Homo sapiens: one gene and its partners. The protein of the gene in region 1 purifies or fractionates together with the protein of each later gene. This does not show direct contact. Each region holds a gene or a part of one and is shown on either strand. Other genes may lie near its edges. The genes, in order: MME, RGPD6, MTHFD1, PAM16, POTEI, LEMD2 and SLC67A1.

The links.
Region 2: the proteins of MME (region 1) and RGPD6 purify together in Homo sapiens (affinity purification with mass spectrometry, with the first as the bait; one large-scale study listed by BioGRID). This does not show direct contact.
Region 3: the proteins of MME (region 1) and MTHFD1 purify together in Homo sapiens (affinity purification with mass spectrometry; one large-scale study listed by BioGRID and IntAct). This does not show direct contact.
Region 4: the proteins of MME (region 1) and PAM16 purify together in Homo sapiens (affinity purification with mass spectrometry; one large-scale study listed by BioGRID and IntAct). This does not show direct contact.
Region 5: the proteins of MME (region 1) and POTEI purify together in Homo sapiens (affinity purification with mass spectrometry, with the first as the bait; one large-scale study listed by BioGRID). This does not show direct contact.
Region 6: the proteins of MME (region 1) and LEMD2 purify together in Homo sapiens (affinity purification with mass spectrometry; one large-scale study listed by BioGRID and IntAct). This does not show direct contact.
Region 7: the proteins of MME (region 1) and SLC67A1 purify together in Homo sapiens (affinity purification with mass spectrometry; one large-scale study listed by BioGRID and IntAct). This does not show direct contact.

Annotation. Positions count from the first base shown.
Region 1 is NC_000003.12:155,142,819-155,146,318, reverse strand, and holds part of MME (neprilysin), read right to left. Parts: intron 2,877-3,500; coding exon 2,748-2,876; intron 1,961-2,747; coding exon 1,862-1,960; intron 1-1,861. UniProt on the Homo sapiens protein: Thermolysin-like specificity, but is almost confined on acting on polypeptides of up to 30 amino acids. Biologically important in the destruction of opioid peptides such as Met- and Leu-enkephalins by cleavage of a Gly-Phe bond.
Region 2 is NC_000002.12:110,532,223-110,535,722, reverse strand, and holds part of RGPD6 (RANBP2-like and GRIP domain-containing protein 5/6), read left to right. Parts: intron 1-34; coding exon 35-2,258; intron 2,259-3,149; coding exon of another isoform or gene 3,150-3,253; exon of another isoform or gene 3,254-3,500.
Region 3 is NC_000014.9:64,419,353-64,422,852, reverse strand, and holds part of MTHFD1 (C-1-tetrahydrofolate synthase, cytoplasmic), read right to left. Parts: intron 3,040-3,500; coding exon 2,928-3,039; intron 1-2,927. UniProt on the Homo sapiens protein: Trifunctional enzyme that catalyzes the interconversion of three forms of one-carbon-substituted tetrahydrofolate: (6R)-5,10-methylene-5,6,7,8-tetrahydrofolate, 5,10-methenyltetrahydrofolate and (6S)-10-formyltetrahydrofolate.
Region 4 is NC_000016.10:4,344,822-4,348,321, forward strand, and holds part of PAM16 (mitochondrial import inner membrane translocase subunit TIM16), read right to left. Parts: intron 1-3,500. UniProt on the Homo sapiens protein: Regulates ATP-dependent protein translocation into the mitochondrial matrix. Inhibits DNAJC19 stimulation of HSPA9/Mortalin ATPase activity.
Region 5 is NC_000002.12:130,471,329-130,474,828, forward strand, and holds part of POTEI (POTE ankyrin domain family member I), read right to left. Parts: intron 3,232-3,500; coding exon 3,050-3,231; intron 1-3,049.
Region 6 is NC_000006.12:33,775,631-33,779,130, forward strand, and holds part of LEMD2 (LEM domain-containing protein 2), read right to left. Parts: intron 2,758-3,500; coding exon 2,612-2,757; intron 1,610-2,611; coding exon 1,508-1,609; intron 1,427-1,507; coding exon 1,324-1,426; intron 1-1,323. UniProt on the Homo sapiens protein: Nuclear lamina-associated inner nuclear membrane protein that is involved in nuclear structure organization, maintenance of nuclear envelope (NE) integrity and NE reformation after mitosis.
Region 7 is NC_000011.10:2,912,278-2,915,777, reverse strand, and holds part of SLC67A1 (solute carrier family 67 member A1), read right to left. Parts: intron 990-3,500; exon of another isoform or gene 629-989; coding exon of another isoform or gene 522-628; exon of another isoform or gene 1-521. UniProt on the Homo sapiens protein: May act as a transporter of organic cations based on a proton efflux antiport mechanism. May play a role in the transport of chloroquine and quinidine-related compounds in kidney. Plays a role in the regulation of lipid metabolism.

The DNA of each region.
Region 1 (3,500 bases):
CCTGGGCTCAAGCAATCTGCCTGCCTCGGCCTCCCAAAGTGCTGGGATTACACCAGGGAGCCACTGCACCTGGCCTATTTATCACTACTTCTAAAGTTCATTTTTAATTATTTTAAAATGGTTTATTTTACTTATTTTATTATTTCATTATCACTTGTTTACTACTTGTTATTTCTATTTTTATTTTATTTCTCTCTTGATTTTCTCAATGATACTTGACTTTTGATTTTACCACTTCGTATCACTCTTAAATAATTTAATTAATTTAAATTTTTCATGGGGGGTTTAGCCTGTATCTCTGAGTTACATGGTTTCCCATCAAATGGATGCAGTTTTATTACAAATCTGTCACATGAGCCCAGGATTTCCCCAGTCAGTGGATCAGGCCTCATATGTATCACTGAAGTCACTGAGGCCAAACCCATTTTCTTGTAGGTTTGCCATCAGTCATGACAATCCAGCCCCCACTTAATGATACTTTATTTACTGTAAGACATTTCCTTAAAGAGTGTTCTAAAGGATACAAATTCTACAGAAAGTATAAGGTAGTAAACACACAAAAAAATTATTGTGAATTACTTCGGGTAAATGCTGTCGCAAAAACATTAAGCAAGTTTCTTTATTGCAGGACTTCTTACAATTAAAAATGGGTTAGATTATAAGGTTAGAATCATAAGTTATTATAAATATCCAGGATGGGAAATTAATTTATCAATTTACTCACTCAATATATTTCAAGGGTCTACCAAGGGCCAGGTATGTTATAAAGGGCTGAGGATATAATGCTAGGCAGTATTTTCTGCCCCCCTGCCCCCAACCATAAAGAGCTTATTGTAAACAGCAATGATAAGCAGTGAAATAAATATTAACTCCCACGTATGATAATAAAATCACACCCTAGGAGCATGTAACCCAGCCTAGGGTGAGATGAGGGAAGCCTTCCTACAAGAAGTGTTCACCAAACTCTTTTGACCATGAGCCTCTTGTGGAATAACTTGCATGTCCAGTATTTTGTGACACCACTTTGGAAATGCCGATCCAGAACAATCCAACTGGCTTTACCAAGCAGAGCCATGTCATGCACAGCTGTGACATGAAAGGAGCAAATCCAACCTGAATGTCTGAAGAGCTGGCCAGAGTGATGGAAAGATAGCAATACTGGGGGCAGAGGTTCTAGGCCTAACCCACTCAGGGCTCTTTGAGAGCTGAAAAAAGATAGTCCTTCCATGTGATTTAATTCTAAAAGAAAACTAGACCAAGGTTGATTATCTTATTAAAATACATTTATTATTGTCTCCTCTATCAATCCAAATCGTCTGCTTTTTCTGCCAACCTAACTACAGAGATTAGTCAGGATGCATGTGAATGTTGCTCATAAAGCATGTTAACAGTTTTCACAGGACATGTTCCCCCTAGTTATTATATAATTATAAAGACAAATGATCACAGTAAATTTAAACCTAAGATTTCCTGAGAAATCTTAGACCTATTCTTATGAAACTCAGTAAAAGTCTCAATAAAAGCTGCACATTATGGGTGGGCATGAATAGTTATAAAAAAGCTTCTTCAACATCTCTTTAATTATAGATCTTATAATGCACCAATAGTGCACCACCTTACATTTGCTTGAACAGAAACTTAATATTTTCACCTTGCTAGAGTATTGGTTGCAGAGATAAAAGATTAAAATTGTAGAAATATATCTTTATCCACAAAAACTCTTTCTGGAAACACTACATATTGAAGGAGCTTACAAGTTTTTATGCAATCTTTGATTATATTTTTTTCTAAATGTTTTTAAAGTTAATTTTTCCTATACTAGCAAAGATTTTTCTTTGCTAGTTAGCTGTCTGCTCTTTACCTTTTCTTCAGCTCTCTTTTTTGTCTCGGCATCCATCCAAGTGAGGTCATCTAAAGTCTGAATAAAAACTTCTCGGATCTGTGCAATCAAATCCTCGACCTCAAATCAGAACAGAAGACAAATATAGGTCATTAATTCATTCTTTGTAACACAGATTTTTAAAAATAGAGCTACATGCTATCTTTGTATGACTTAATATGTTAATAAACGTAAATTTATAGACAAACTGTGACCTAAGCTAACAGATATATGGGACCATTATATTTTAAAAGCAATATTGCTATTATCGACACTCTTGATTAAATAGGTCTTAATATATGCATTAAGGTAAAAATCATTTTCAGAATATAATGGTTTCACTATCATACTGGAAGAACTAATGTAAAATATTAGGGCTGTCATTACCATTAGTGGTTTAGCTAAGCATAAAGTAGCATTTCAATAAATTCTTTCACCATACCATTAAGTTCCACTGTCTTCATTTTCCTAACAATGAAAAATAAAGCACATTTCTTATACTCCAAATAAATCCTGTTTTACTTTCTATGTTTTTAAGAAAATACTAATTTGGGGGCAATTTTGATAATAGAAGAGTTTATAAATGACTATATCAATAGAACATGTTACTGGGTACTCCAAATACACTGCTTCTGGAAAATGGTGAGTTGGTTTCAGACTAGACAGTATTAGGAGCAGAAACATAACTAGACTCTTGGGGAAGGCAAGGGAAGATTTATTGGGAAACAATGGCATATTATGATTCAGAGGTTCTCTGCCTAAATTAATAAAATTTTAGCCAAATGATGGAGAACTGTAATTGCTCATCAGTGTGAACAAACTGATAGTGTCCTGTATAACTGACAGTGTATTATTCTGAAAACATTACCACATGTTTACTCTCTCCAGCAAATGCTGCTTCCACATAAAGCCTCCCCACAGCATTTTCCATATTCCCATTGACATAGTTTGCACAACGTCTCCAAGTTGCTGTTTCTGAGGTTGTACCATAAAGGGCCTACGGAAAAGAAAAAGGAAATGGCATTTGACCAGAAGGAAAGGTCTGGAGCATGTTAAGAGCACACATTTCACAAATGTCTCATCTAAGTTCTTGAAATATTCATCACTTCTCCTCACAAGGCCCATGTTCCTAGCCTATGATGAAATGTAATCCAAATGGATTGTTTACTTATATATGATCTGAAAACTAGGCATATTTTCAGTAGATGCCCCAGTAGAACTTTTTGCTATTACAACTTAATATCATTGTAGAAAGCGTTAGAAAAACATACAACACTGTAACCACTGCACAAACATAAATGTGAAGTCATATTCAATAAATGTAATGGGGGAAATATGGTATATGAGAAAACACATTACTGCTTTTCAAGGTTTTAGCTGAACTCTGAGTACTTACAGAACCTGTATGTGTATAAATTTAAGAATAACAGGATAACCTAAGTAAGGGAGATTTAGCACAATACATTTTTGCATTCTTTAATTTTAAAAAGATGTCTACATTTTCTTTTTAAGGATAAAAACTAGAAATTTTAATCAGTCCACGTTATTTTCTTTCCAAGACTCCAACTAACATGTTTGCTGGAGTCTCTCCTTCCTCAATCCCTACTGCCTACTCCCCTCA
Region 2 (3,500 bases), on another chromosome or scaffold:
GGATCAAGAAAATTCACCTTCATTTATGTTTCAGGGTTCTTCTAATACAGAATTTAAGTCAACCAAAGAAGGATTTTCCATCCCTGTGTCTGCTGATGGATTTAAATTTGGCATTTCGGAACCAGGAAATCAAGAAAAGAAAAGGGAAAAGCCTCTTGAAAATGATACTGGCTTCCAGGCTCAGGATATTAGTGGCCGGAAGAAGGGCCGTGGTGTGATTTTTGGCCAAACAAGTAGCACTTTTACATTTGCAGATGTTGCAAAATCAACTTCAGGAGAAGGATTTCAGTTTGGCAAAAAAGACCTCAATTTCAAGGGATTTTCAGGTGCTGGAGAAAAATTATTCTCATCACGATACGGTAAAATGGCCAATAAAGCAAACACTTCCGGTGACTTTGAGAAAGATGATGATGCCTATAAGACTGAGGACAGCGATGACATCCATTTTGAACCAGTAGTTCAAATGCCTGAAAAAGTAGAACTTGTAACAGGAGAAGAAGGTGAAAAAGTTCTGTATTCACAGGGGGTAAAACTATTTAGATTTGATGCTGAGGTAAGGCAGTGGAAAGAAAGGGGCTTGGGGAACTTAAAAATTCTCAAAAACGAGGTCAATGGCAAACTAAGAATGCTGATGCGAAGAGAACAAGTACTAAAAGTGTGTGCTAATCATTGGATAACGACTACAATGAACCTGAAGCCCCTCTCTGGATCAGATAGAGCATGGATGTGGTCAGCCAGTGATTTCTCTGACGGTGATGCCAAACTAGAGCGGTTGGCAGCAAAATTTAAAACACCAGAGCTGGCTGAAGAATTCAAGCAGAAATTTGAGGAATGCCAGCGGCTTCTGTTAGACATACCACTTCAAACTCCCCATAAACTTGTAGATACTGGCAGAGCTGCCAAGTTAATACAGAGAGCTGAAGAAATGAAGAGTGGACTGAAAGATTTCAAAACATTTTTGACAAATGATCAAACAAAAGTCACTGAGGAAGAAAATAAGGGTTCAGGTACAGGTGCGGCCGGTGCCTCAGACACAACAATAAAACCCAATGCTGAAAACACTGGGCCCACATTAGAATGGGATAACTATGACTTAAGGGAAGATGCTTTGGATGATAGTGTCAGTAGTAGCTCAGTACATGCTTCTCCATTGGCAAGTAGCCCTGTGAGAAAAAATCTTTTCCGCTTTGATGAGTCAACAACAGGATCTAACTTCAGTTTTAAATCTGCTTTGAGTCTATCTAAGTCTCCTGCCAAGTTGAATCAGAGTGGGACTTCAGTTGGCACTGATGAAGAATCTGTTGTTACTCAAGAAGAAGAGAGAGATGGACAGTACTTTGAACCTGTTGTTCCTTTACCTGATCTAGTTGAAGTATCCAGTGGTGAGGAAAATGAACAAGTTGTTTTTAGTCACAGGGCAGAAATCTACAGATATGATAAAGATGTTGGTCAATGGAAAGAAAGGGGCATTGGTGATATAAAGATTTTACAGAATTATGATAATAAGCAAGTTCGTATAGTGATGAGAAGGGACCAAGTATTAAAACTTTGTGCCAATCACAGAATAACTCCAGACATGAGTTTGCAAAATATGAAAGGGACAGAAAGAGTATGGGTGTGGACTGCATGTGATTTTGCAGATGGAGAAAGAAAAGTAGAGCATTTAGCTGTTCGTTTTAAACTACAGGATGTTGCAGACTCGTTTAAGAAAATTTTTGATGAAGCAAAAACAGCCCAGGAAAAAGATTCTTTGATAACACCTCATGTTTCTCGGTCAAGCACTCCCAGAGAGTCACCATGTGGCAAAATTGCTGTAGCTATATTAGAAGAAACCACAAGAGAGAGGACAGATGTTATTCAGGGTGATGATGTAGCAGATGCAGCTTCAGAAGTTGAAGTGTCTAGCACATCTGAAACAACAACAAAAGCAGTGGTTTCTCCTCCAAAGTTTGTATTTGTTTCAGAGTCTGTTAAAAGAATTTTTAGTAGTGAAAAATCAAAACCATTTGTATTTGGCAACAGTTCTGCCACTGGGTCTTTGTTTGGATTTAGTTTTAATGCACCTTTGAAAAGTAACAATAGTGAAACTAGTTCAGTAGCCCAGAGTGGATCTGAAAGCAAAGTGGAACCTAAAAAATGTGAACTGTCAAAGAACTCTGATATCGAACAGTCTTCAGATAGCAAAGTCAAAAATCTCTCTGCTTCCTTTCCAACGGAAGAATCTTCAATCAACTACACATTTAAAACACCAGAAAAGGGTAGGTACTTTGTTGTTAAAGTTAAGCACAATTTTTCTTTCTTTTAATGTTTAGCTTGATGCAGACTCTTTGTGGGATACTAATGTTGGGATATAAACGATGCTTTGTGAACACCCCCAAAATATTTGAGCAATTTTTTTTCTCCCTTAATAAGTTCACGGTGAGGTTTCAAAGAGCAAGAGAACTTAGTTAAAGACATTTCAGTAACTGGAAGATACTTCTATCATGCTAGGGCAGAGCAAAAGAACTTGGTACAGTGTACGGACTCATGCTTGAATCATGCGCATTAACGTGAGTCTTTTTTTAAAGTGTTCATTTTCATTTGTTCTGTTTCTTTTGTCACTCAGAAAACATGATATTGAGGCTGGGCACGGTGGCTCACTCCTAGAATGCCAGCACTTTGGGAGGTTGAGGTGGGCAGATCACTTGAGCTCAGGAGTTCGAGACCAGCCTGGCCAACATGGTGAAACCCTGTTTCTACTGAAAATACAAAAATGAGCCGGGCATGGTGGTGCGTGCCTATAATTAGCAGCTACTCAGGAGGTTGAGGCAGGAGGATCGCTTGAGCACAGGAGATGGAGGTAGCAGTGAGCTGAAATCATGCCACTGCACTCCAGCCTGACTGAGTGACTGAGTGAGACTTTGTCTCCAAAAAAAACAAAAAACAAAAAACAAAAAAAAACATGATATTGAGATGTTCTCATTTTATGTGTTGTATGTCAGTCTTGCTCATGTATTAAATGAGCAAAGAATGAAACTACAGGGATAAATGAATATGTAAGACAGTCAGATTGGTGGTATAAATTGAGGGATTCTGGCTTTTTATGTTTTAAAAGCATATTCATTTTGTTTCCTAAAATGTTAAAAAATGAAATATTCTTTATTTTCTAGGATTTAATTTTAGCCTTTTTAAATCTAATCCCATGGCCTTTTGGACTAGCACCCCTTCCTCACAGCCTGAGAGCAAAGGTATAGAACTAGCATTCTCAGTATGAGATAACAGCAGTTTTTAGCAGCTGGGTAGCCCTTAGCAAAGTATTAATTACTGTGGCTGTATGAAATGAAGTACTTACCACTACAACATGCATGTTAAAGAATGCCAGTTTAAGCAAAGTACCTTTTGACTGGTGGCATGACACCCTTGTTGGTTTGTTTTTTAAAATGTAGTGGGATGCTGATTTGTAATGTACTTCATTGCTCTGCTATTTCAGGTCTGCTCAATGAAGACCTATGTTTTATCTA
Region 3 (3,500 bases), on another chromosome or scaffold:
ATGTGGTCAGTGGAAAAAGTGACCACTACTCAGCCTAAGCATATGACCTCAGTAATGAGCAAACCTTTTGGTTATCTACCCCCAGCCCTAGAATTTCTCTTTCTTTGGGAAATCACATGTACAAAAATCAACTAAAGATCCAGCTGAGCCCTGACTCTTCTACATTTAATTTGGGGACCCTAATAATAGAGGCCAGTCCAGAAGCAGCTACACTGGATAGGTTGAGACTGGATTGCATTAGGGTGGGGAATCTGTTCCCACTTTTTAACCCTTCCAAATAAAACACTATTGATCTGGCCCTTCTCAATTTATCTTTAGTAAGCCAAGCAGGAAGAGCACTTTTATGTGTTTCTCTGGCCAATACTTTCTGCCCTGCACTTGAATCTTTAAAAATATTACTTCTTTGTAAAAGGTATACACACCTTGATTCATTCTTAATTTGGCAAGTGACTTACAATGTTATCCCTGAGTGGACCATGCAAACTATTTAAATAATCAAAATATGAACCAAGAAGTAGCTCGGTGGTAGAAAAGTTTGCTTCTAAAGTGAACATTTGCAAATATCAGTCTTTAGGTCCTGCAGCCCATTTGCTGGTCTGTAACTGAGTGATTCTGCCATCCTTTGGGGAACACAATAACATCCAGCTGTATCAGCATTAATTTGCCTATATGCCCAAGATCAGTAAAAACACTGTTGACCAGAAGGGAAGATACTGCTTTGATTTTATTCATATTTTATTGTCTACATAAGGAATCAATGTGAAAAGGATGGCAAGTTTCATGTTTAAGTCAACATTTCCTACCTATCTGCAACACTCAAGATCCCCACTCAGGTTTTTCTTCTCCATTTCTCACATGTAATCCAAAAAAAAAATGCCAAAAGCAGAAATATGATACAGAAGATGCGAGGTTTTAAAAAGACTGAGCTTGCTGGGTGCGGTGGCTCACGCCTGTAATCCCAGCACTTTGGGAGGCAAAGGTGGGCGGATCACGAGGTCAGGAGATCGAGACCATCCTGGCTAACATGGTGAAACCCCGTCTCTACTAAAAATACAAAAAAAATTAGCCGGGCGTGGTGGCGGGCGCCTGTAGTCCCAGCTACTCGGGAGGCGGAGGCGGGAGAATGGCATGAACCCGCAAGGCGGAGCTTGCAGTGAGCCGAGATCGCGCCACAGCACTCCAGCCTGGGCAACAGAGCGAGACTCCGTCTCAAGAAAAAAAAAAAAAATTAAAAAAATAAATAAATAAAAAGACTGAGCTTGAATGTCATATCGCAAGTATTCAAAGTGAGGAGTTGTAGGAGAGCAATTTCTTTATCGCCTGTTAGATAATTACACTACAAGAAAATGAGTGATCAATTATGAGCTACTGTCTTAAAAGCACGGTAGGGAGAGTGGGAGGGAGGTTAAAAACGGTGAAGGCTTGACAGTGACTAATGTTCCTGGCAGCTCAGCGTCTACATCTGAAACTTGAGATGGGAAGGGAGAAAAAAGACTTCCAGCTATAACTCCCTTCGACAATTCAATAGATATGAGTGCCAGTGGTCAGATGGCAGGAAGCTGGATGTGGCGCCACAGTGACCACTGCCCTTGAGGAGCTATCTAGGCAGGAGAGCACAGGACGCCGTACATGAGACACATGCAACAAAAGATACAATACACATGTTCTATGGGAGAGGAGGGAGGGAGAGAAGGAAAGATCATCCCTTGATAAGGGGAAATCAAACAAGGTTTGGAAGGAATAACAGACATGACAGAGAGGAGATGGGGAGGAAGCAGCTGAAGGTGAAGGTGAAGTTGAACCTTATTCAGTTGTGTAGCCCAAGGCCTGGCATTGTGCTGGATACACAGTAGTTGCTCCGTTAAAGATTGTTCCTTTCTTGGATCTATGAGGACGTACGCAAGTTTTGCCCTATTGTTCTGTGAAGTTTTCTGTTTGAAAGAGTAGCCCACTCCACTAAGAATGCAGGTGAGGGAACTACAAAGGGCAAACGAGGCATGCGCAGGGAAGGGAAAGTGGTCCACTTTACAAGTTGAAGACAGGTATTCACCATGCGCAAGTGAGATCACAGGCTGCAGAGGTCACTGAAATTAGTGTGAGGCTAAGGAGTCTGGCAAGTAAGAAGGAAGAGGCTCAGAGTTCCATGCCAGAAGGTGAACGTGGCAAGGCGAGAGCACGGGGATAGATCTGAGTGGGAAGCAGCTGGAGGGAGGGACACCTGCAAGGAAGTTATCACAGCCCATCAGCTGAGAAGGTAACACTCAGTGGTGACACTCAGAACAGAGGAGAGAGAAAACAATTCCTAATATTTAGAGACTGGTCCAATATAGGGAATGCTTGGGAGGGAAACTAAAAGGCTTCAGACTTGCGGGAAGGAAGAATGGTGATACTAACCAAAAGACGGGAGTAAGGGGTAACTTGGGGATGAGGATGCCGAGTACAGTTTTGGACATGATTAAAAGGCTAGATTTATCCTCTCAGCCTAGAAAAAAACCCAGGTCAAATATCTTCTTTGTAAAGCCCTCCTCTTGGCAGAATGAGTCCCTCTTCTGGACTCTCATAGCACTTTGCAATAATTATACTGTATTTTAAATCCATCCATCAACTTTGCTAAAATAAAGGGTGATCTCTACATGAAGATAAAGTGATATATCCCTCCTGCCCTCCCTCTCACTTTCTCCCTGGACAAAGTCATCTTGGAAGCTGTACAGCACATGATGAAAATCAAAGGCTCTGGCACCAGGCAGACCTGCCTGCAAGTGGCAACTCTTCTATCTACTAACTCTGTGCACCCTTGGGCTAGTCAGTCTCCTAAACCTTAGTACTACAAGCATAAAATGAGACAAGCTTCTCTCTCAGGCTTCTTTTGATGACCTAGATACCATCCTCAATACCAGCAGCCACCTTACTCCTCCAACAACACTCACCTGGGACATAATTGATTCCACAGTCGATGACTATTGCCCCAGGTTTGATCCACTCCCCTTTAACCATTTCAGGCTGACCAGTTGCAACCACCAGGATGTCACCTTTATTTACCTAGGGGTAGGGGATTTGGACATCAGAAATGAAATAATGAAATACACACCAAAAAAAAACCCAGAAATGAAAAGGATATCCCTGAGCTTTGTATTAAATTCTTAAGTGTCATAAGCTATTTCATAAGATATTGGGTTAAGGCCTCAAATGTAAGCCACACACTGTTTCTGACAGCCCTTCACATGCCGTGCTCATTTCTACACATGCCAAAGAGCTCCCTTTCACCAGCCATTTTACCCAATAGGGAAATCAGTGTCAACCTGCAAGGCAGAGGGGCAAACAGGCTTGGGGCCCTGCGTGTTATGTCCAGACACTGCTCCTTCTCCTACAGAATGTAGAGCACTACTTTGGGAGGATTAAAAGAGAAAGTACTAGGCCTCTCTCCTGCTCTCTCCCCACATTTAAGAGACTGCACTGTCAACAGGCACGTGTGTGTGTGTGCGCATTCTTGGGCTCAGGAA
Region 4 (3,500 bases), on another chromosome or scaffold:
AGAGGAGGGGGTTCTGTGAGAGGAGGGGGTTCCGTGAGAGGAGGGGGTTCCTCCTGGGCTGGGCTTTGCAGGGTAGGAAGAATCATGATGGAAATACTAGGGCTTTCTAGGCAGAGGGACTGGGTTGAGCCAAAACTGGCAGGAGAGAAGGCAGAAGGGAGTTCCTGCGAGCAGCCAATAGCCTAGGCTGGCCTGGGAAAGACTGGGAATCTGGCGGATGACATGGAAAGATGCACAGATCTTTGTGAAACAAAGCGATTATATATAGACAGCACATACAAAGGATCTTGTGACTGCAAAGCCGTAGACGCAGGGGGGTGGCGCGGGCTGGAGGCAGCTCGGCATAGGTTGAAAGCTCATGTGGCACAGCCGAGTGACTTTCCCTTTCTTCCTAGTGCTTTTCTGTAGATTTGCCTTCAGTCAACAAGTATCAACTGAGTCCACACACCAGGCACGGTGCCAAACACGTTCAATTCATTGTGCCGTTTAATTCTGACAACTCAGGGGTGGGGGACTGCTGACTGGCCCGAGGACGTAACAGCAGGTGCCTCGGAGGCAGATCGGAAACCCAAGGCTGGTGCTATCTGTCACAGCAGTCACTACGCAGGGTCCCGGGGTCTGAAGGTAGGGCACCTGGGCAAGCCGACAAGTATCAAGAACCCAACCCCGAGGCCAGAGGGGCTTGCTCCAGATTCCAGTGGATTCGACTCCAGAGCTGGCCTTGTTCAGCCTCCGAGGACCTGCTCTTTCCTTAACAGGTGGGATGTCATTATGGGCCATTAGGGGAATGAACAAACAAGTGGGTTAAGATTTCAAAAGTAGGTGGAAACTTCATAACTTCTGGATTTCACAGCAGAAAGAGCCCAGAGAAGACCCTCCTGTGATCACAGCGAGGGGCAGGGCTGTGGCTGTACTGCAGATGAGGGAGGGTCAGGGATGCACCTGATGACACCTGCGGTCTCACCTGACTTCGCCTCCTTCCTAAAGCCCCTCCCGAGTGGAACAGGAGGCTCAGGGATGGGATGCTGGTGCTGTCTGAAGGACAGAGGTGAAAGTCAGAGGGTCCCCTCGGCTTGAAACACGGCTCAGGTCTCAGACTACCCCTCACACCAACAGCCTTCGGTCCCTCTGCTGCCATCGTACAGCCTTGCAATCACTTGTTTACTTTTCTGCCAAGGCCAATGACTGTTGCAAAATAATGAACGGTAAGAGCTGAGGTCATAACTGGGGAGCTTCCCCGACCATCCCCTGCACACTTCAAACCAAAGCGGCGTGGTGGCCTGTGGCTTCAGCTGCCTAGAGCTGCAGGGCAGAGGGGGGCTGGCCTGCAAAGTTTCAGCAGACTGGACGGCCCATTGAGGCCAGCAAGGTTCCTATAGGAGGCATCTCTGAGAAGACGCAGTGTAGTGTAATGGTTACACCTGCAGGCTTTGGGATCACCTGTGTGCAAAAATCCCAGCTATCTGACATAGACACGTTCTCAACTCCTTTGAGCAACCCAGTTTGCTTACCTGTAAAATGTGGCCACCAATAAAGCTGAGATAATGCCTGTCAAATGCCTGGCACACAGCCTAATGGTACAGCAGGTGCTCAATAAACATTGGTTTTCATTCATTACTACTGTTTCACAAAATCTGACAATGACCAGGCACTATGAAGTAACAAAGCTTCTTTCAAAATAGCAGCTCATTTGATACAGGCCCTTTGCTTCCTCAGGGGTGAAGGCTGCAAAACACCATACTACATTCCCTCAGGGAGCTGGGAAGCAGCAAGGAAGCAGAACGAGAACCACGTTGACCTGGGACCAGAACCCTAGCTTTCTTTCTCAATAGCTGTGTGACCCTGGACAAATTACTCAACCTCTCTGAATCTTTTTTTGTTTTGGTTTGGGTCTTTTATTTTTTATTTATTTTTTTGAGACTGACTCTCGCTCTGTCACCCAGGCTAGAGTGCAGTGGTTCAATCTCGGCTCATTGCAACCTCCACCTCACCAGTTCAAACGATCCTCCTGCCTCACCCTCCCAAGTAACTGGGATTACAGGTGAACACAACCAAGCCTAGCTAATTTTGTATTTTTAATAGAGACGAGGTTTCACCATGTTGGTCAGGCTGGTCTCAAACTCCTGACCTCAGGTGATCCACCCGCCTCGGCCTCCCAAAGTGCTGGGATTACAGGCATGAGACACCACACCTGGCCTTTTTTTTGGAAGCAGAGTCTAACTCTGTCGTCCAGGCTGGAGTGCAGTGGTGCAATCATGGCTCACTTGCAGCCTCAGCCTCCCAGCCTCAAGAGATTCTCCTGCTTAAGCCTCCCGAGTAGCTGGAGCTACTTGTACTCAGCCTCCGAGGACCTGCTCTTTCCTTAACAGGCGGGATGTGATATGGGCCATTAGGGGAATGAACAAACACAAGTGGGTTAGGATTTCACAAGTAGGTGGAAATTTCATAACTTCTGGAGGCTGAGCACACGCCACCACATTTGGCTAAATGTACTTTTCTGGAGAGATGGGGTTTCGCCATGTTGCCCAGGCTGGTCTTGAACTCCTAGGTTCGCATGAACTGCCCTCCTCGGCTTCCCAAAGTGCTAGGATTACAGGTGTGAGCTACTGTGCCCAGCCTACCTCAGTTTTCTTAACTGCAAGATGGAGAGAATAACACCCTCCTCACAAGAGGACAGTAAGGCCCTCAGGAGGCAATGCCCATTAACACCACATGGACAAACAGCGGCAGGTCCAGAACTAGGCGGTGCAGGCAAGCCCCTCATCCACCTATCCAGTACCCCAACATCCCCTGAGCTTCTGCCATGGGTCAGGCTGAGTTCAGAGCTCATTCACAGGGAGCAGAGCTCTGCCAGCTGTGGCTACCATGGGTGACCAAAACAACCACTGCCTGAGGCCCCTCCCAGAGGCTCCAAACATCCCATAGTCCACCGACTGACACTTGGGCCTGAGGGTCCCAGGTGAGAGGACCCAGCTGACTTGGCATCCAACTTCAGGCCACGCGGCTGTCAGAGAGCAGCAGTCAGAAGCACAGGATCCAATCCTGGCATGCGTGGGGGCAGCATGTGCACTTCGTTGTTGGGCAGCAACCTGGCCCAAGGCAGGACCAGATCCCAGCAGCTGGGACCACAGACAGTGCTGTGGGAGGCACTCAGCAATGGGGCTTACACTGACTTGTGTCTTTGAGATTCGCGTGCAATGCGCCTTTGAGGCCAAGCCCCAGGCTCTGGGTAGATAAGCAGACAGCCTGAGACTCACTCTCAAGGACACTCTGGTCACCCAGGGCCCCTGAGAATAGATACGGGCATCACAACTAGACAGGAGAAAGGTCAGGACCACAACTGTAGCACGTGCCACAACATCAGGGACCTGGCCAGTGGCTGGCGCAGTAAGTGCCCCTGGTGCATCTGAATGAATATGGCTGTTGCAGCTTTGCCCAATCTGCTGTCTCATGAACTCCATGTCCCCAGGCAGGGTTTCCAAGCGCCTCCTAACCCTTCT
Region 5 (3,500 bases), on another chromosome or scaffold:
CAGTCAAGAATAACACTGAGGTTTTTGGCAGAGCAACTGGAAGAGTTGCTGTTAACCAAAGTAGGAAAGACTACATGAGGTGTAGATTTCAGGAAGGACATCAGTAGCCCAATTTTGGATCTGACAAGTGTGTGATACCCAACAGCTAATCAAATAGAGATGTCAAGTAGGTGGGATGATATAGAGATCTGGAATTAAGGAAAGAGATCTAAGTTGGAGACATACATTTGGAAATCACTAGCATATACACAGTAGAAAAAGTCATGAGGGGCCAGGCACGGTGGCTCACGCCTGTAATCCCAACATGTCATGAGGCCAAGGCGGGCAGATCACCTGATGTCAGGAGTTTGAGACCAGCCTGGCCAACATGGGGAAACCTGTCTCTACTAAAAATACAAAAATTAGCCAGGCGTGGTGTCGCACACCTGTAATCCCAGCTACTCAGGAGGCTGAGGCAGGAGAAGTGCTGGAACTCATGAGGCAGAGGTTGCAATGAGCCAAGATCATGCCACTGAACTCCAGCCTGGGGGACAAAGCGAGACTCTGTCTTAAAAAAAAAAAAAAAAAAAAAAAAAAAACCATGAGAAAGAAGATTGAGGACTGAGCCATGAGAAACAACAATGTCCAAAAGGAGAAAGATGAGGAGCAGCAAGCAAAACAGACCATGATAAACGGACTAGAAAGGCAGGAGGAAAAGCCTGAGGGAGTGAGGTCCTGAAAGCCAAGTGAAGACGCCATTAGGGAGGAGATGCCCTCCATTGGCTCAAATATTGCTGACAGATTAAATGAGGTGTAAGAAAAATGCCTAGATTTAGTACAGAAAAAAATTAGTGATAATCTTGAGGAAAAACAACTCTGGAGGAGTGCTGAAATTGAAGACTTACCGGCATTGAGATCAAGAGTGAATGGAAAGAAAATTTGAGTTCATGAGTGTAGACAGTTCTTTAAGGACAACATACTTAACGCTCATGACTGAGAATGATGTAATTTTCATCCACAGTCATGGAAAAGTGATAGACAAGAAATAGTAGCTTCCAAATTTTACATAACAGGTGGAGTTTTCAAATTTTATGTAACAATTATATATTCTAAAGGTTATAAAAATTATACACATATGGCATTTAGAAATGTCAGACCAAGGTTTTTAAAGGCCCTTTGAACATTTCTAGATTACATAAGCTGATTATCATTTTGTTCATGCTTATACATAAAGACCAAGAAATACTAAAACTCTCAAGGAGAATATTTCTTGCTTGATAAAAATCAGCCAATTCTAGGACAGTTGACACTCATCAAATATACAAAGTAATTGATCACAGTAAAATACTGAGTTCTATTAACAGGAATAAAGTGGGAGAAATGCAGAAAATAATCTTATTTTATAAATGTAGTTTTCAAAATCATATGAAGTCACTGGAAAAATACGGTGAGGTGAATACTGAAATATATCCTTTTCTCAAAGGGAGGATAATGTCACACATGCAGGGCACTTTTACAAATAAAAGTCACTGCATTAGCAGCACCTTCCTTTTAGCACAAGGGTCAGCAAATAAGCACCTGTGGGCCAAATCCAGCCCACTGCCCGTTTTTGTAAGTCAAGTATCTTGGAACACAGCCATGCTTATTCACTTTACAGTCCATAGTGTCAGTTAGCTGGGTGTGATGTTGCACACCTGTGGTCTCAGCTAGTAGAGACTGAGGTCAGAGGATCACTAGAGCCCAGAAAGTCGAGGCTGCAGTGAGCCATGATCACACAACTGCACTCCAGCCTGGGAAACAGAGTGAGACCCTGTCTCAAGAAAATCAATATATGTAGTCCACAAAGCCTAAAATATTTACTAACTAGCTCTTTGCAGAAAAAGCTGGCCAACTCCTGGTTTAGTAGATCAAAGATTCTTTGATGTATTTTAATAAAAGTTTTACCAAATATACTGAAATGTTTATATTAAATATAGATCCCCATGTACAATCCCTTGGCAATATTCAGATTGAGGGTCCAATATTTCAGCACTCAGGCACTGACAACAAAAATTTAGTAACTAGCAATCTTGTTGCTAACAAGGTACAGTGTCAATGTAGCATGTAGCTTCCATTTGCAACACAGCAGATATTACAAGAATTTTAACAAGAACTCTTAAGATGTGTCATCAAACTAAACGCTTTAAATACATTTTAATTGTGAAATAATCAGTATACCCTACATCTAACCTCATTTTTTAAAAATGGTTGCATAATACATTATTTTGGGGATATGGAAATTGAGCTATTTCCTATTGATAAGCAATTAGACTAGTTCCAAATTTTTTACATAATAATACTATAATAAATGTCCTTATACATAAGTATACATATAACATATCTATACAAATATCCTTTACATGTATTATATATGCTTACTCTGTTATATATGTGTGTGTGAATATGCTACTCAATTAATGTTCAAAATGTATTTACCAACAGTATATGAAATGTCTTTTTCAATGAAACCATTTCCCCTGCAGCAACACGGATGGAGCTGGAGGCCATTATCCTAAGAAAACTCATGCAGGAACAGAAAATCAAATGCCACATATTCTTACTCATTAGTGGGAACTAAACATGAGAACTCATGGACACAAAGAGGAGAATAACATACACTGGGGCCTACTTGAGGGAGGAGCATGGCAGGAGGGAGACGACCAAAAAACTACCTTTCGAGTATTTTGTTTATTATGTGGCTGGTGAAATAATCTGTACCCCAAGCCTCCATGATACAGTTTACCTATATAATAAACCTGCACACGTACCCGAAGCTAAAATAAAAGTTCACTGAAAAGAGAAGAAAATGCCTTTTCCCTCACATTTGCCAATACTGGTTATTTTTCAAATAAATTAATGACTGGAAAAAAAACGGTAACTGATTGTTTGCTGATTTTCATTTTTCTGATTAACAGGCAAGGCTCAATATCCTAATAAAAGTATAAAATTTGTTCATCATGAATATTAGCTCAAATTAGGATTAGTTTGACAGCACAAAGTTACCTCCTGTTCAATGTTGCCATAGGCTTACCTGTGATACTCTTCATTCTCAGTGTCAGGAAATTGCTGGCTTTCAGGTGTTCTGCTCTTCCTTGGAGGAATTAATCCATCATCACCATTGCCAGCAGTGGCACCATTAGTCAGGTTTTCTGGGAATCCGACGTGAGTACTTCCGTGCTTCTTCATTTCTTCGATAGCCATAAAATTTTCTAGCTGGAAAATACAGAGAATAAGAAATTATCTACTTTAGGCACATTATCTACTGATAATCAGACTAAAACCAAGAAAGATAAAATAATTGGTCTAAAGCTCCTAAAGTGGCATTACCTAGCATTTTATGGCACCATTCGGGATTATTCCATAATAATGAAAGAATAGCTCTAGGGTTTGCACCTCTTCAAAATTCAATGTACAGAATTCTGAGTTAACTATTTAATTTTTCACTGATGATTTATGCTACTTACATGATAGGATCATGTATG
Region 6 (3,500 bases), on another chromosome or scaffold:
CGGCTCTATTTTTCTGATTCCTCTTGGGTTGCAGATAGGGATGATGTTGACAGTAGAGCCTGGTGGCGGGAGCACGGAAATGCCACTAGCCATGGGACTCTTGAGCACATTCCTCTACTTCCCTGTGCCTCAGTTCCCTTATAGGTAAAATGGGGCCACTTCTGTTGTGTGCGTGAACCATGGTGAGGACCAAGTGAGTGAGTTTGCATCTGTGGAGAGCTCCAAGTAGTGCCCGGCTCCCAGGGAGCACTCAGCAAGGGTGAGCTCTCAGCATCACCCAGCAGATGACAGCATCTGGCCAGAAACCACAGCAAGTGTCTGCTAGGGAGGGACCACAACCAGAGCCAACACTGGGGGGGGCCCTGCTGGCTGTCTCCTGGGACTCTGCCCTCCCCCACCCTGGTTCTGTCAGGACCCCAGTGTACAACTCCAGCAGTCACAGCCCATGTGGAAGGTGCCCTGCAGCTGCACATGACAGTGGCCCTGCCACCCCTTCCCATGAAGCTATGTGCCCTGGAAGCTGACCCCATTCATGTTGTGAAACTTTGCTTTCAATTACATGTATATGCATGAGTGTACGCATGCGTGTGTGGGAACTGGACCATGATGTTGCAGGTAACAGGTGTTTTTGACTGCAGGTCATGGTTTAAAAAGTTTGAAAAACAATTTCCTCCTCCTTGCCAGTGACTGATTCATAAACAGACATGTAAGAGATTCTGGTCAATAAAGCCTCAAGGAGTGTGTCACTGGAGGCTACTGGGAACATGTTCTCTTGCTTATAAGACAACAATAGGCCTACTTTTCCCCTGCTGGCTGTGACAAGGCAGACAGTGCCCCAGCTGCTGTTGGCCACCATCTGCAACCATGAGGGACCCCAGTCTGTTGATAACATCCATGGAGGAGTGTGGGACCACGAGAATCACAAGAGCAATGGAACCGGAGACCTGACTGTTCTGTGCCTGGAGCCCATGCAGCTCTGAACTTCCACTTACAGAGACTGAGGAGATCCTTCACTACTTGTGCCCTGGGGGAGGGAGCTGCTATTACTTGGAGCCCAAGGCCTCCTAACTGGTATCACCACTGCCAGTGTTCTCTCTACAGAGGTGTGGGATTGTGCTTTCATATGTCTTTTCTAGCTCATCCTGCCATAAAGAGCCGAGCATGCTGGGGAGCAGCAGGAGTGGGAGCAGAGCCACTCTTGGCCCTGGGGTCTGCACTGCCCTCAGCTGACATCTGATGCAAGGCTCTGGGTTTCCTTCTGGGGAGCTCAGTGGGGTCGGACCCCATCTTACCTCACACCCAGCGCCCCAGCCAGGGACTCACCGGCTCTGTGGAGGGATCAAGCTGTCGCGCACGTGCAGGATGCCTACATATGGATAGCGCTCCATGTCCTGCTCCCAGTCCACGTAATGGTCCTGGACCACGTCTGCAGGAGAGAGCACACCATTTAGGGCAAGGACCCTCTGGCTGGCGTCGGCAACCCTTTATTCACCAGGGGGCCACGCACCTATAATCTTCTTCACCATCTCATACATGGCTTGTTCCTCCTCTTCTAACTTTCGCCACCGATATTTTAGGAGAATTAGGAGCCCCCACAAAAAAGCCAAGCCTGTGAGGGAACAAAACACTGTTAATCCCTCACACTTCATTTGGCAGTGGGTCTCACCATGGACAAGATGCTGTGATGGATGCTGTGGGGGATCCACCACATGGGTTTGGGTACCTACTATGTGTCAGGCTCAGGGCCAGCATGCGAGAAACAAAAGATACAGAAATGCAGAGGGACGACAGATTATTAAGTGATCATCTTCCTCCCACCGGCTGTCACCACAGCGGCATCCCCAGCCGTCCAGATCTCGGCTCCTCCCAACCTCATTCTGGGGCTTTCATCTCCTCCCTTGTGAACCAGAACACAGTGTTTCATACATATATACATGCCGGGGCCCTTTGTATTCCGAGATGCTGCTGCCGATAATGATTTCTGTGCCTGATGGCACAGGGGAGGGAGCTGTGTGCACACTGAGGCGGTCTGTGATTTGTAGCTCCAACTATCTCTGGAAAGCCGTGGTTTCTGTGACTTGGCCTTTCGCCTTCAGAGACGCCCTGAGGTCTCTGCTCAAAGGCGGCCCCCGATGTCAGGGGATAAGACTGGTGCCCTCCTTTCAGTGCAGCACCCTGAGTCCTTCTTGCTTTCATCAGGTATCTGTAGCTCTCCAGGAGATGTTTATATTTTTCAGGGAGTAAAAGTAGGCCAAGCCCCTGCTGTGCCTCCTGCTCGAAGCTGGTCCACACTGGGATCCCTGCAGAGCCCAGAAGGGGTGGGGCCCAGCTCCTGCTCAGGCCAGGCTCCCGCTCAGGAAATCTGACAGTCCCCTGCCCTGAATCAAGGACATTTTCTAGTTATCCTCACGGATTCCTGCCACCAATCTCCAAAGGTAAATACAACCCAGGGCAGAGGCTGACTTGTTCATCTCCTCTGTTTTATGAGACAGACCTCAGGTTCACTAGACAGAAATGAACCCTCCGGGCCTGGAATTTCTATAGCTCATCATTCATGCCTAGGAGTATGCTTGACTGCACAGAAGGGGAGGGAAGGCGGCCGAGGACTTACACCAGAAGAAGATGAGCACGTTGGTGACAGCAGTGAGCAAGGCCCGGCTCAGGCGGCAGCCAACACCCATGCGGGGGTGGGCAGATTCCAGGCAGACCACCTTGTCCACAGTCGTCACCAATTCAGACTGGTCTTCTCCTTTCAACCTGAAACAGGACACAGGGCTCTGAACATGTTGGAAAGCTCCAAGGAGAGGCAGTGCAAGCCCCACTTCAAACAGGAGGAAGCGAAGGAAAGTGGGGACGCAAGGCCTCTACTTGCTTATAGAATAGGCTTGGTATCCTGGCTGCATTCTTTCCAGAAATTTCCCACATTGGCTACTTAGAATGAATAAAGCTTTAAAGACGGCAGCAGGCTTGAACCCCTACCGCTAAAGCAACGTCCCCCTGTCAGGTCTTTGACAGCCTCTCTCAGCATGCAGGAGATTAAACTGTAAATTGGATTCCCACCTCCCAGCATAGAGAAATGGAAATGTTTACTGAATCACTAGCTTTGCAATTGCATGGCAAGAACTGAAAGACAGAATCTGGGAGGTTGCACTTTTCCTCGGTGACAAGGAGGCACATAAGCTGTTTAAGTGTAAAGATCATGGGGCATCCATGAGGCTCATGGGGAATCCGTGAGGCTCATGGGGAATGAAAACCACCAGGCTCTCCGAGGCCAGACCCCAGCCACGGCGCCTCCACCATGGTCTCTGGCCAGGAGGTGTCAGGACCTGCAGAGGTGGGGACACCAGAGCCTTCTTCCAGCTAGGTGACCCAGGGCGAGAATATCATGCTCTTGAGGCTGCATGCTGGAATGGCTGGCATCCCAAGTGTCCTGATTTCTCAGGACCCACTTTCAATATGGTCATCCTGAGCGGCTCTGCCACCCTCCAGGCTGCCTTCCC
Region 7 (3,500 bases), on another chromosome or scaffold:
TGGGGCTTCCTACTGAGCTCGTCTGTAAGGCCTCCAGGCCTGTGCCGGACCGCCACGGCCTTCCTCTCAGCAGCTGAGCAAACTCCTATACAGCCTGCAAGGGCCCTTCTTGGTGAGGCCCCAGCCCTCCTTCCCAGACAGCATGCCATCTGAGAAGGACTCGCTTTACCAGCTGGCTAGAATCTGGCCCCTGAGGGCAGGTGGTCCAGGGTTGGACCCTGCGCGGAGACCGCAGTGATCATTAGATGATCGGACAAATGTGTGAGCCATTCACACACGCAGCACAAGTTCTGCCCCAACCTCAACAGATCCTCCAAATCTGCCCTGGCCAGGGCCTCAGGGCACAGGCACCCAGTAGGGGTCAGGGTCCTGGAAGATGCCCTTGCACCCAAAAACAAGGCCAGCCACAGGCCACCATGTCCCCACCAAGGAGTTCAAAGAAAGGACTTTCCTCGCCCCTCTTCACCGCAGCCACATGCGCACACACACACACACACGGGCAAACTTGTACACACACTTACCTGCATCCGTTTGCCAGAGCAAGGAGGGGACTTGGAGCCACACTGACTAGGACAGTCAGTGGGGCCACCTCTGAGTCCAGAGAGTCTGGGCATTGGCCACCCCTCATTTCTGAGGTGGGACCCCTAAGCTCACATCAGTCTAGGGGGGTGCTGGCATATCCACCCCACCTGTGCTGCTGCCCCCGCCAATCCATCAGGGCAGCTCCGACTCCTGCAGCACCCACCGCCCAGGACGTCAGCTACTCAGGTTTTCTGGCTGCTGGGGTTCCGCACGAATGGGCCCTTCCTTTGGGAAAATGCCAGGGAAGGGGAACGGCTGGGCTCGGGCGCCACAGCTTGTCCCTCCAGCCAGCAGGCACAGATGTATGGCGCAGGAGGGACAACTGGCCCCTGTGGCCAGCCCCAGAGAGACGGGCCCTTTCTTTGGGACCCTGGCCTCAGAGGCCTGCGTGTCACAGCTCAGGGTCTGGCTGGGCAGGGGCAAAACCTGCCTTATTTGCCAGATGTCCCAGAAGTACACAGGAGCAGACGCACCACTTCGATGGCTATTTTAGGAGGCTGGTGACAAGCAAGGCATGGTGGCAGGAAGCCAGGCCCTCGAGCGGTGGTGGGTAAACCAAAGGCCTGTGCTGCTGTGGGCAACAGGAAAGCCTGGGGCTGGGGGACCCTGGAGGGCCCCAGGAGGTAGGGAGTCAGGTCCCACCACTGTGCCAGGGGCCGTGGGTGGCTGCTGGGGGAGACGCAGGCTGTCCTTCCCCAGTCACAGCTCTCCTGCTCCCCAAAAATGAACTGCCAGGAGGGAAACGGGAGTGGGAAGGAAATCCAGCACGCTGGCCCCAGCCCTGGGGCCTCTGCACGCCGGACAGCCTGGGCATCCCCCGGGACCATTGACTGGAAGCACCCTTAGCACGGTGCCGTCAGCCCCTCCTGCTCAGCCCCCCTCAACCTCACCACGACCTGCCAGACGCAGGGGCACGCTGGCTTCCCGGGGCTCATCCAACACTTTTATCAGTGGAGCCACGACCAGGAAGGTGGGGACAGGTTAATTTGTCTTTGTCTCCTCCTGCTCTTTCAGTTGAATGGATTACAGGAGTGTCTGTCTGGATGCTGTTGAAAGGACACTGGACAGGACTCAGGGGACCCACAGCCTCTGTCCCTTCTCTGCCGCTTACCTGCTAGGTGACCTCATTTCCTTATATGCAAATGAGGGCTGGGTTCACAGCTGCCGGCTGCCCCTAACTCCACTGTTCTGGGGCCCCTCTGGACCTGCAGGGCGCAGCCCACCTGCATCCTGCCCACCAACCGCAGCCCACACCTGAGGCTGCCCAGATAGCAGGGCGTGGAGTTGGCTTTCAATCGCGTCTCCAGGAACCTCTGCTGAAGTCTGGGCTTCTGTGTGTTCTACGGTGACAAGCCCTCATCAAGCCTCACCTTACTCTGAGGCTCTGAAAGGGGACGCACAAGGTGACAGCATGTGCCCAGGTCATCCTGCTGCCAGGAGCGAACCCACAGGTGGGGCTGAGGCTAGGTCAGCTGGGACCTGGCTTTGTGGGACACCTAGCTCACAAGACGATGGGGCAGGGGGCTGTCCAGAGCGTCCCTGGATGTCCAGCCCAGGGCTGAGAGAAGTCATCCGTGCTCCAGGATGCTGCAGTTAGAACCATGTTTGAAAATGAACATCTTGCCATGCCACTCCTAACGCAGCTGCCGTCTGGCTTCCAGCGTGCCCCAGAAGGTCCTAAAGGCCCCTCTGGCCTGACCCTTCCCAGTCCTCGTGTCTCCTCGTACCTGGTCCCCCCATTCCCCAAACACATAGCCCTCCAACCAAACCACAAGCTCCCTCCTGCCCCAAATGGGCTCTGAGACTGGAGTGACTCACGGGCCCAGCAGGAGGCCTGTCCAGCCTGCTGCTCAACAGGGCTGTCCTGAGGGACAGCGGGGCCAGAACCATCTCAGCGGGGCCTGCTGCCTGCCCACTGTGGGAAGAACAGAAAGAACCGGAGTGTCCTGGGCACTGCGAGGTACACGAACTAAGGCAGTAGCTGAGTCACCTGGCTGGGGGGGCGGCGGGCCTGGGTCGCCCATATCCTGCTGCTCCCTCAGCTGCCTGCCAGCCCCTGCCCTGCATCTATCTGCCCCCGAGAGCCTCTTCCCTGTACAGCAGGTGCCCTGTTACAAACACCCCTGCACTCCTCAGCCTCCGCTCAGCGCTTGGGGTGCCCTGGGTCGTATGGGACACTGCTCACCTCCCCTCCCATCCCCTCCTCCCTCTCTGAGCTCCAGTGCCCCTGGCTCCTTGTTTTTTCTTGGCTGGGCAGGGGTGTCCTGCCCACAGGGCCCTGGCACCCCCATGGCACCGGCATGGCCCTGGTGGCTGCCTGTCCACCTGGGGAAGGCAAACCCTGCAGGGCTCCCTGCTGTCTGGCTCAGGATAGGACTCTATGGCCCCTCCCCATCCCTCCCCAGTCTGTGAGGGGCTGGGCTCAGAACATGAGTCACAGAGCCACCCCCCACCCAGCGTGTGTGCAGTGACTCAGGTCCCGGGTCCCTCCTCAGGCCAGCCTGGCCTCTCAGCCCTGGGCTCTGGAGGCTGGGCCCAAACCAGTTATACCAGTGCCCGCCCCCGCAGCCTGTGGGTGCCAAGTCCACTTCCTCCTCCCACCTGCTGCCCAGGTGGGTGCGGATGAGGCAGGACTGGGGCCTTCCAGAGGAATGGGATACACAGGTGGGTGGGCAGGGAGGGAAAGCCCACACATGTTGTGCCTCGGTTTCCATCAAGGAAGGGCAGGAAGGCTGCAAGGCGGGGGATGTTCACAGCTGCACCAGACTCCTGCCCCGCACCAGGCCAGGAGCCAGAACAGGCTGCAGGCGTTGGGGCAGCTGGACCAAGAGGGCCAGGGGGCTGGCCCTTGCCATGGGGCACCAGGCTTTGGAGCCTGGCTGGCACCTGGCCCCACTGCCTTCGGTGAGCCCCCGAGG